Linked DNA regions of Homo sapiens. The protein of the gene in region 3 purifies or fractionates together with the protein of the main gene of each other region. This does not show direct contact. Each region holds a gene or a part of one and is shown on either strand. Other genes may lie near its edges. The genes, in order: TAP2, HP1BP3 and FGD1.

What was found.
Region 1: the proteins of FGD1 (region 3) and TAP2 purify together in Homo sapiens (affinity purification with mass spectrometry; one large-scale study listed by BioGRID and IntAct). This does not show direct contact.
Region 2: the proteins of FGD1 (region 3) and HP1BP3 purify together in Homo sapiens (affinity purification with mass spectrometry; one large-scale study listed by BioGRID and IntAct). This does not show direct contact.

The regions. Positions count from the first base shown.
Region 1 is NC_000006.12:32,824,915-32,828,968, forward strand, and holds the end of TAP2 (antigen peptide transporter 2), read right to left. Parts: coding exon 3,992-4,054; 3' UTR 501-3,991; downstream 1-500. UniProt on the Homo sapiens protein: ABC transporter associated with antigen processing. In complex with TAP1 mediates unidirectional translocation of peptide antigens from cytosol to endoplasmic reticulum (ER) for loading onto MHC class I (MHCI) molecules.
Region 2 is NC_000001.11:20,745,808-20,749,307, forward strand, and holds part of HP1BP3 (heterochromatin protein 1-binding protein 3), read right to left. Parts: intron 1,849-3,500; coding exon 1,737-1,848; intron 1-1,736. UniProt on the Homo sapiens protein: Component of heterochromatin that maintains heterochromatin integrity during G1/S progression and regulates the duration of G1 phase to critically influence cell proliferative capacity.
Region 3 is NC_000023.11:54,468,526-54,472,254, forward strand, and holds part of FGD1 (FYVE, RhoGEF and PH domain-containing protein 1), read right to left. Parts: intron 2,963-3,729; coding exon 2,789-2,962; intron 2,236-2,788; coding exon 2,058-2,235; intron 1,933-2,057; coding exon 1,491-1,932; intron 352-1,490; coding exon 262-351; intron 1-261. UniProt on the Homo sapiens protein: Activates CDC42, a member of the Ras-like family of Rho- and Rac proteins, by exchanging bound GDP for free GTP. Plays a role in regulating the actin cytoskeleton and cell shape.

The DNA.
Region 1 (4,054 bases), on a different chromosome or scaffold from region 3:
ATTTCTCATTCTGATTTTCCAATATTTTAGACAGATTTGTTATTGTTGTTTGTGTGTGTGTTTATTTTTCTCATCTTTGCTCCCTTATCCTTCTGGGTTTAGTATCTCTGTTACTTACATGATAATATTAAAAAGCAAATGATAACTACAATACAATGCTACTTTCACCCAGAAGATTGTCAAAATTTTAAAAATTAACACTGTCTGTTGGTTATATACATATATATATATATGGAGAAACAGATAAACTCATATGTTGCTGCTGGAACTATAAATTAATATAGCCTCTATGAAGGCAATTTTGCAATATCTATCAATATTTGTAATGTATATATTGGACTCAGCAACTCCCCTTTAAGATTGTATCATACTTGTATTTTTGCACATGTGCATTACAATGTCTATACAAGACTAACTAGCAACAGCAAAAGACTTCCAATAACCTAACTAGCCATCAGTAGAAGGAAACAGGATAAATGAAATATGGAACTTCCATAAAATAGAATACTACATAGCCATATATTTTTAATTTAAAAAATAAAGTTCAGAACAGTGAACTTAGACAGCTGCTGTTTGCGAAAATACTGAGCAAGAATAAAGATATACATATTTGCTTAATACACAGTAAACTTCTCTGGAAAGATAAACACAAAGCTGGAAGAACGGATTGCCTATGCAAGAGGAATTAGCAAACCTTGAGAAGGATTGAGAGTGAGGCTTTCCTCTGTATACTTCTTTGTGTCTTTTGAATTTCAAACCACATTCATATATTGCTTATTTAAATAAATAAATAATATATTTTAAAAAGAGGATAGTAGGAAGATAAGTGGAGTCAGGGAGTATAGGCAACTCTTTTGAGGAGTTTTATGCAAAGCTGGGCAAGTCCACCTCTTCCTTAGCTATGTGACCCAGGCAAGTTAGTAAATGTTTCTAAAACTCCATTTTCTCACTCTTAGAATTGAGATAGTAATACCTGCCACATAGAATTATCTTGAAAAATAAGGTAAGAAGACAGGTTTCAGATACTTGGCACAGCAATAGCACATAGTAAGCACCAGTGAATGCTTAGTAGTAGTAGTAGTCTAATTCCTAAGAGTCCATGGAACTCTAGGTTCAAAACCCAGTTTCTTCTGGGACCATTAGATGGCATCAGACTCAAGCAGGTGCTCCTCTAGCTGACAGCTCTAAAACACAAGGAAGATCTTTGTTTTCCTTATTCCCTAGTCCTTTCCCCACAAAATTCTGACAATTACGCATTTCCTGCTTGTTTCACAATTGCCATGTGGATTACAAGTGGCTATCCCTGGGTGGAGGCATAAAGGACTTGAAACTCAATGCTGTTTCCACATAGGGCCGGGCAGACAGGCTATGGAGGTGTTTTGGCATCCAAGGAAATCTATCAGTTTCCCAAGCTTTCCCCTCTCCATTCATACTTTCCTTTAGAAAGAATAAGGCATGCCTGGGTGGGAAAGATACTGCAGGTAAGCGACAAGAAGGGGAAATTACAGGGTAAGGAGATCAATCAAATGGTGATGGGGGGTAGGAGTGAACAAAAAGAACTCTGGAGCAAACCAGGATTAGTGACATCTGTGGTTCCCAGACAAACCACACTTACAGGAATTTGTCTGTCTAGCCCGAATATTTTGACTTTCAGGGAGCATTTTTCTGTGTCCCTGACATAAAGCCTACCTGGGAGTTTCCCCTGAGATAAGAAACTTTCAGGACATCTTAAGGTCTACTGCATCTTCCTGTACTGCCCATCAAGATAAGTTTTCCACCCAGCTTTATCATGATTAGCTGCGTGATTTCATGTCAGTTTCTCTGTAAAATTAGGTTTGACTGTTGCATTATTTTTAAGATGCCTTCCAGGCTTAAAGTATTATGATGCATGGGTATAACTGTACTGAGGAAATCAAAGAATTTCTCAGATCATCTTCTTCTGTGAGGGCTGCAGCTTCCATGTAGTTGGGAGATACAGGAATTATTATTCCTGTTTTATGAATAAAGGACATTTGTGGGAGAGAAAGGAATCAGGCCAGAGTTCTTTCTCTCCAAATGCCTATTTTACCCTCTGTGAAATTTGAGAGATGGATGGGTGTGGAGCTGCAAGTCAGCCCCAGGATGAAAGAAAGGCAAATCTGCACAAGAAACTGCCCACTCTCACCCCATCCTCACTGCACCCTGCTCCCAACAGCTGCCAGGCAAGAAAAAATCCAAAACAGCAGTTCTGGGGAATTCATTGCCAGCACTGGAAACTACCTGCTGTTTCCAGGAATATGAAGGTTTCTCTTTCCTAGAATAGCAACTTTCCAAGGTAAGTCCCTCCCAACAACCAGTGATGTGTACAATGTTGCATTTTCAGTGGTGGGAGTGGGCAGGGAGGATTAAGATTAGTACGATGGTGGAGATATTTATTCATTTATTCAATTGACTATTTATTCTCCACTATGAATTAGGCCCTCGGCCAGGTAGCAGATATAAAGCTTAATAAGATATATGGCTTTCCGCCCAGGTGCTCATGGTCTAGTGGAAGGTCAAAAAAGGTGGGAAAGGGAAGATAGAACTTTAAAAGGGCTGTGAAAGAGGTAACCGCACAGTGATAGAAGCACATGGAGAGTTCCCCAGACTGACGACATAAGTAAGGCCTCCTGGAAGACCTGAACCCTGAGTTAAGTCTTGAACTTGAAAATCAGGGGCGAGTCGAGCAGAAAATGGGCAAGAAAACACCATATGCAAAGGCACAAAGGTGTTGGGGAAGGCAGAAGTTTGTCGTGGAGCTGGATACAACAGGAGAGGGTGAGACAGATGGGCTGGAACAGTGTGTGCTCTGAAAAGGATCTCTGCAGCAGGGCTTGAGAGCACCTGAAGGAATTTCCAGAAATGCCATCATCGTATGTGACACAGAATTTAGAAAAATGACTTTGTGAAGAATGGCCGGAAGAGGGAAGCTAATGGTAGAGAAACCTCTCTGGTGATGGGATCATCTTAAGTCTATGAGTGAAGACTATAACAACGGGACTGGAGAGAAGAGAATAGATTCTGAATTATTTAGAGCTAAGAGCAGCAGAGCTTTTCTTGATGGGATTATGGATTAGGGTTTATGGACCCAAGATGCAATATAATTGATTGGGTCAGGGTGTGGACTCTAGGGTCAGGCCTGTGTTCAAACTCCAACTCCACCACTACGACCACCTTGGGAAAGTCATTGAGCCTCTTTGAGCTTCAGTTTCCTCATCTGTAAAATGGGGATAATAACCAACCTCATAGGGTTGGGGATAATGATTAAAAACGATAATACATGAAAAACACTTAGCATAGCTCCTACTCCCATTAAAACTCTATAAATGGTAGCTGTTACCAATGTCGCTATTAATACTGTTAATCAGGGAACTGTTCTCTGTCCCTCCAGACCCTAGCTTCTTCAAAATAGCAGACACTGGTAGGAACAAGGAAGGATATAGGAAGGCAATCTCATGAATATTTATGTCATTTTTGGTTAATTTCTATCTCAAACAACAGATAAACGACTGATGGGACAGGCAGCAAAATAGCAACTATGGTTATCTCCAGGAAGTGAAACAATGGGTACTTTTACTTTTCTTCTTTGTACTTTTTTATATTGTCTAAATTTTCTATATGAATGTATACAGTTCATGTAAGAAGGAAAATATTTTAAAATATATGTATTATGCCACAAAATACTCCTCATCACCAGGCAAAGCTCTAGTCACCAGGGAATTAAGTTTCCTGGACACAGACAGCCCCCACCCCACCCCACCCCACCTCTCTACCCCACCAAAAGCACACAGTGTCCAAATCTCCATCGTGCCTGCAACTCAGGAACAGCTATCTGGCCGCACAGCTCTAGGGAAACTCAAAGCAGGAACAGCTCTGGGTCCTGGAGACGCCCCTGAGAAGAGGGCCCAGTATCCCTGGGGCCTCAGTCCATCAGCCGCTGCTGCACCAGGCGGGAATAGAGGTCCTGTCCCTCCTAGAGCTGGGCAAGCTTCTGCAGCTTGCCCTCCTGGAGCACCAGGATCTGGTGGGCGCGCTG
Region 2 (3,500 bases), on a different chromosome or scaffold from region 3:
CGTATTTTGAACATACATATAAAGTTATGCCAAATCTATAAAAGTCCTGCACCATACCTAATTCTATACCCACTATTTAATAAAATTAATCCATAGTCATTTATTTAGTAAACAATTACTTAAACTCCTAATATGTATCTGGCACTGTATTAGCCAATGAGTACACAGCAATGAACAGTCTGCATGGAATACACACTTCAGCCTCATAATACTGGCAAAAGACCTCCAAGTCTTAAAAAAAAAGACCTCAAAGGCCTAAATCTGTTCAAAGCTTCAAAGGTATTCGGCAAGGATCTCCTAAACTCTTTTTTGTCCTTGGTGGTATGAACCTTGATTCCTTTGATTAACATATCCTTAAATGATAACATACATACATATATGTGTGTGTGTGTGTGTGTGTGTGTGTGTGTGTGTGTGTGTTTCTTGCCTTTTTCAGACACAGGGTCTTGCTATGCTGCCCAGGCTGGAATCAAACTCCTAGGCTCAAGGGATCCTCCCACCTCACCTTCCCAAGTAGTTAGGACTACAGGTGCATCCCACCACACCTGGCAGAATGTAACATTTTGTGTGTGTGTGACTTTGGGAATTAAATTTAATGTTTAATGTTCGAAAAATTTATATAATATGTATTAAGCCAAGTAACACTTATGTTTGTACAGAAATAATAATATAAGAAAGTTACACAATAGTCTTGCTAAAACAGGGTCTTAGTGGTATATGTTATGTACTTTACTGGAAATCAAAAGGCTTTAAACCCAGTGCATGAAACAATGCTTGGACCACAGGAGGTGATCAATATATTTTTTTGTTTCAAAGAATAAATAAGGTATTTGCAAGAAACAAATTTTCAGATAAGTGTTCCTGTCTCTACAGTATGGAGGTAGAGTTAAGATTCTTGAAAACAGTCAATGTTCTCCCCACTTGGTATTGGACAATTAAAACTTATGCATATAATCCCATCACTTTGGGAGGCTGAGGCGAGAGGACTGCTTGAGCCAGGAGTTCAAGGCCAGCCTAGATAATATGGTAAGACCCCCATCTCTACAAAAAACACAAAAATTAGCTGGGTGTGGTGGCGCGCACCTGTAGTCCCAGCTACGTGGGATATTGAGGTGGGAGGATCACTTGAGCCCAGGAGGCGGAGATTGCAGTGAGCCGAGATTATACCACTGCTCCAGCCTGGGCGATAGAGTGAGACCCTGTCTCAAAAAACAAAAACAAAAACTTATACATAATCCTCTAAGAATCTGTCATTATCATTTACTTGATAAAGAAGGAATGAACATCAAAATGACCATCCGAGGATCTCAAATAATCTTATGCCTGGCTAAAATCACTATTTTTATACAAAACCTTTTACTCCAAAATAATACTGCCTTAAAAGTCATCTTTATTTTCAAATACAGTTGTCCCTTGAACAACACAGGTTGGCAACGCATTAGCCCACTTTATATGTGGACTTTTTTTTTTCAACCAGACACAGATCAGAAATACAACATCCACAGGATGCGAAGCCTGCATACAAAGAGGACAGACTTTTCAGATACATGGATTCCACAGGGCTGAGTACATGCGCATTTGGGTATGCGGGCAGTTCTGTAACCAATCCCCTATATGTAACAAAGGACGACTGTATTTCCAGTTCACTAAAACAGTAATAAGGGTAAAATAAATTAAACTGAGTGTGTAACTTAGACTATAAATTTACAGTGATCTATTATAGGCTAAGTACTTACCTGGGATAATAGGGAAAACAGAGCTGGAAGGTGCCACTGAACCCTTTCCCAGAGATCTGTTCCATCCACCCATTCTTTTCGCATTTCTGCAGGGTTTTTTTCAGCAAATGCACTGAAAAAAAAAATTCAGAAATGAAAGTTATCTAGTTATTCAGATTAGATAATTCCCTCAACCACAAACAGATGCCCATCAATTTAATATCCTGTCACATACGGTAATTGACATACACTAAGTGAATCCTATGTGTTCAAAGGTATTTAATTAAACATTTACTTATTGCCCATAAGTTTGGCAAGAGTTAAATTATATACATACATACATACATATATCTATATTTTAAAATTTTGCAAAATATAGAGACAAAGTCTCACTATGTTGCCCAGGCTGGTCTCAAACTCCTGGGCTCAAGCAATACTCCCACCTTGGCTTCCCAGACTGCTGGGACTCCAGGCATGAGCCACCATACCTGGCAAGAGTTATAATGAAAAGACACATTAGAGACCATTGAGTCAAATACCTTATTTCACAGGGAAAAAAAAAAAGCCCAGAGTGGTTAAGTGACTTGAGCTCAAAGTAGTTAAGTGACTTGCTCTAAGGTAGCACATAAACAGCAGACCTAAAACTAAGTATTTAATTATTTCCATTCACTTAAACATCTATTGTGTACCTATAGGTATTGATAATCATCTAGGAGAATCTCTTATAAAGATGAACAGAACTAATTATTCATAAATCAGTAAACAGTAACAAAACAATATCATGGTTCCTGAAGTCCTTCATTCTCATCTTTCTTACAGAGACATATCCAAAATATATTTTATGGTGATTCAGTATCCAAAAAACAGCTGCAAATATCAGTGAAACTGAAAGGCTTGTTAACCAAATTCATCTTCTCTTAAAACATCTGGCATATAGAAATAGGCCGGGCGTGGCGGCTCACGCCTGTAATCCCAGCACTTTGGGAGGCCGAGGCCGGCAGATCACGAGGTAAGGAGATTGAGATCATCTTGGCTAATACGGTGAAACCCTGTCTCTACTAAAAACAAATAATACAAAAACAAAAAAATTAGCCAGGGGTGGTGGCAGGTGCCTGTAGTCCCAGCTACTCAGGGGGTGGAGGTAGGAGAATGGCGTGAACCCAGGGGAGGCGGAGCTTGCAGTGAGCCAAGATCGCACCACTGCGCCCCCCAGCCTGGGCAACACAGCGAGACTCCGTCTAAAAAAAAAAAAAGACTTCAAAATTACCTTTTAATTACAATAATATATTCTGGATTGTCTTCTTCTGTTACTTAATTTCCATATCCCTCACCCTACAACATTGTGCCTCTTCTAATAGTTCATTGAGAAGTCACCCAGTCTCACCAATCCACACGATAATGCTGATAAGGCAGGGTGTCTCATCTCAAATCACCACCTCCTAGAGTAAATATACTTTACTGAAATAAAGTATTGTCTGTTGTGGGGCTTAGGTTAATAAGAAATAATATAAGTAGTAAGTACTCTAAAATCCTGGCTTTGTTTCAAAGTAAAATTAGATGTTTTTGGTGAACATTCAAAAGTAGGAAAAAATACACTATAATTTAGAGTTGCTTTGAACCTAGAGATTTATCTAAATTACAATAAATATCAGAAAAATCTTTACAGTAAAAGCAACTTCTTATAAGCAGATGCTTTAAATTAAGAATTCAGTTTTGATTATTTGTTTTTCTTTTTGTAAATATGAAATTTGTAAAGCTGTTCCCTCTTGGTTTTCAGTCAGTAGT
Region 3 (3,729 bases):
CAGTACTAGTGTCAGAGTCGCAGTCAGGGCTGGTGTACCTGCCCAGCGTTAGGAGTGAGGGTTGGTATCAGCCCTCACTGATCAAGCTTGGGGCATAATCAGAGATGGCTTCAGGGACAAGCTGACTTCAAGGTCAGAGAGGAGCCTTACTGCCTCTAAATTCTGGCCACAATGGTGGGATTGAACTCAGGCCCTATCACTGCCTCCTTGAAACGCACCTACAAGGTCCTGGGGCCCTCGTACCCCCAAGGGGCCACTCACCTGATCCAGGAGATGGAGCCTGGAAACGTAGGCCTTCTCAGTTTGCAGGAGCTCATTGGCAATGTGAAACACCTTTTGCTGCACAGTCAACTGGAAAGGAGAAACAGTAACCCCTGATCCATCATCCTCTATCGTAACCCTCACCCAAGCCCCCAGAATTCTTAAAACAGTTCCCATGCCACTCTAAGCCTAATACCACCCTAGGATAACCTTGACCCCCATCTCTAGATCTGTAAGTCCTTCAGCTTCATCCCTGAGTCCCCAGTCTACCATAAAGCCTACCCCTCCATTCTGATGACGTGCACTCCCTCACTCAACAACTCATTCACCCGCTCTCTCTATTCACTCAGCAGAGTGTAGTGGTTAAGCATGTGGGATGGTAAGTCAGACTTCCTGGGTTCAAATCCTAAGCTCTGCCATTCACTAGCTTGTGTAAGTTCTTTAACAGCTCTGTATTTAGGACGCCTCATCCATAAATACAGATAATAATAGAATCTATTTAATGTAGAGGCTGGTGAGAAACAAAAACAAAACCAAAACAAAATAATAATAGGACTGAAGTCCATTGGTAATGGAGACAATTAGATAATTTAATATAAATAAAACACATCAGACTACAGATTAAATGGTATATAAATGTTAATTAATCATTTATTCACCCACTCAGTACACTATCAGCAAGGGCTTGCTGAGTACCTGGGGTGTGAGAAAAGCACAAAAGTATAAGAACGTATAAAACTCATTGCCTGTTGGCCTAGTTTCCTATTCCTTAGATATATGTGTTGACTACCTGCCATGCCGGCAGTCCCTGGCTTTGGCCCCTACACTTGAGCTTGGTCCTAGCAGAGCAAGTATTCCGGCTGAGATCTAACTCAAGTGCGATGGTGCCTTCTGAAGAAATGTTAGGCTGCCCGGGCACAGAAAGGGGTCTCTGCTGCCAAGAGCCTTCATCTGCACAGCCTCGGGCCCCTGCAGGGCTCTAGCTCTTGCGCCCCTCCTCCAGCTGTTGAGAAGTCTCTATGGATGTAAGTAAGAGACTTTCCGTATTACAAATAAGGAAACTGAGGCTTATGGTAGGGAAGCAGAAAGGGAAAAGACTTGCCCAGTGTCACAGAGCTTGGAAACAAGGTCCTATTTCGAGAAATACTGAGCTAGGGGAAGAATCAAGCACAAAAGGCGCTTCCAGGTTCTCCACATGGACCTGCCTCTCGGTGAACACAGGTCAGTACCTCCACAGACTCCTGTCTCTCCATCAGGGGCACTGGGATTTCTCTGTCCTTCTCTTCCTCCTCCTCCTCGTCGTCCTCCTCCTCCAGGTCACTGTCAACCTCTTGGGAGCCAGGCCGGTGGGGGTCGGCCAAGGCAACAGGCACACTAGCCAGGGCAGGGGGCCCAGGGCAGAGGCTGTGGCTGGGGGGCCCGTCATCACTGACGAAGCAGGTCTCCTCGCTGTTGGATGGCGAGCTGATGCTATCAATGCCGCTGTCCCGGTTGGGCACCTTCTCACCGTCCCGGGGCCCAGGAGCCAGCAGAAACAGGCAGCGGGAGGCCTCACCCTCGGGGAGCTGGGGCACTGGTGGCTGCGAGGTTGGCTGTGGCAACATGACTGGCTCTGGGGGACCTGGGCTGGGGCCAGGGACTGGTCTATCCGAGGCGACAATCACAGGCTCTCTGAGGTGGGTGGTGGACACACATGGAAGCAGGGTATGAGCTTGACTGAGAGGCCTCTCCTGACTATCCCTTCCTGTCCCAGGCTCCCCCTTTCCCCTAGAGGGTGCCCTAGGGACCAGACTCACCTTTCAAACTTCTCAATCAGTGAGGATACTGCTGCAGAACTGGGGCTGGCCTCTGCCCTGGGAGCCAGGCCCTTGGCCACTCGGGGGTCGGCAGGCAGTGGGCGTGATGGTGGAGGGGGGATGGGCTCCAGTGGGGGGGGCATCCGGGGCATCTGCAGGTAGCTGGGCTTTGGGGGCACTGGAGAGACGAATGGGGAAGAGAGAAGGGAGACATCAGTGAGCTGGATTTGAGCCTGGCTAACATGGTGAAACCCCATCTCTACTAAAAATACAAAAATTAGCTGGGCATGGTGGCACGTGCCTGTAGTCCCAGCTACTTGGGAGGCTGAGGCAGGATAATTGCTTGAACTCAGGAGGCGGAGGTTGCAGTGAGCCAAGATCATGTCACTGCACTCCAGCCTGGTGACAGAGTGAGATTCTGTCTCAAAAAAAAAAAAAAAAAAAGCTGGATTTGGAGGTGGCTGGCTGTCATGGCCAGGCCACAACCCCTTCCACAAACACCAATCTGCACCTTTGCCTGAGGTAGACACAAAGGGGCTAAGGTGAGATCACAGTATGCACACATTAGCCTCAGGCCACAGCACTCTGTGCACTAGGTAGGTAGCACTGCCCTGGGAGCATGGTGGCTCCCTATCCTTCTAACAAACCCTCTTCTCTGCCACTGGCTAACTTCTCCCCTCCTCTGTACCCTCCCCTGGGCCACTTCTCTGCTCTTTTCCAGGACCACTTACCCTGTGGCTTCGGGCCCGGTGCCCGCTTCAGTGGTGAAGGACGCTGGCTAGGGGTTTCAGTCGGGGGACCTGGGTCTGAGCGAAGCCGCTGGGGACCTTCTGGATGAGGCTCTAGGCTTTGGCCAGGGTCAAGGGACAAACTTTTAACCAGGATCCGGTTTCCCTGGTGCAGCCCTGCAGGAAGGGAGAAAATGGGTGTGAAGTAACTGACTTTAACCCAAAGGGGACTGGGGTTAAAGTTAGGACTGGCATGTCTTAGCAGCTATCTGGGGTATTGGGTTTCTCTGAGCCCCTTTCCTGGCCACAGTGTTTTTCTGGGAAGCCCCTATCCTAGCCCTCAGATGGAGAGCCAGACCCAGGGCTGGGGCTGGCTGTTTTCATCAATAGATAAGAATTCTTTGTGACTAGTGCATTGATTCCATGTATGTCAGCAGGCAGTATCACTAGGGAGTTTAACCAGGCTGGGGGTGGCTGTGAGCACCCTAAAGTTTATACATGCGTTTGCAGCCCTTGTTTCTACAGCCACATAGGTATGCTGAGTATAAACCATTCTTCAACGCTTTTGTTAAGGCCCTGAGAATATCTAGACTTTCTTGTTTACAATTTTGTGCAGCTAAGTGTGCTTAAAAATGATGAAATTGTGTTTCATGAGCAAGTTTTGCTTCTTGAAATCCCAACTTCTGGCTGGGCACAGTGGCTCATGCCTGTAATCCCAGCATTTTGGGAAGCTGAGAAGGGAGGATTGCTTGAGCTCAGGAATTTGAGATGAGTTTGGGCAACAAAGTGAGACCCTGTCTCTACAAAAAATATAAAAGTTAGCTGGGCAGTGTGGTGTGCACCTGTATTCCCAGATACTTGGGAGGCTGAGGTGGGAGGATCACTTGAGCCTGGGAGGTGGAGGTTGCAGGGAGCTGAGATCACCCCACTGCACTCCAGCCTGG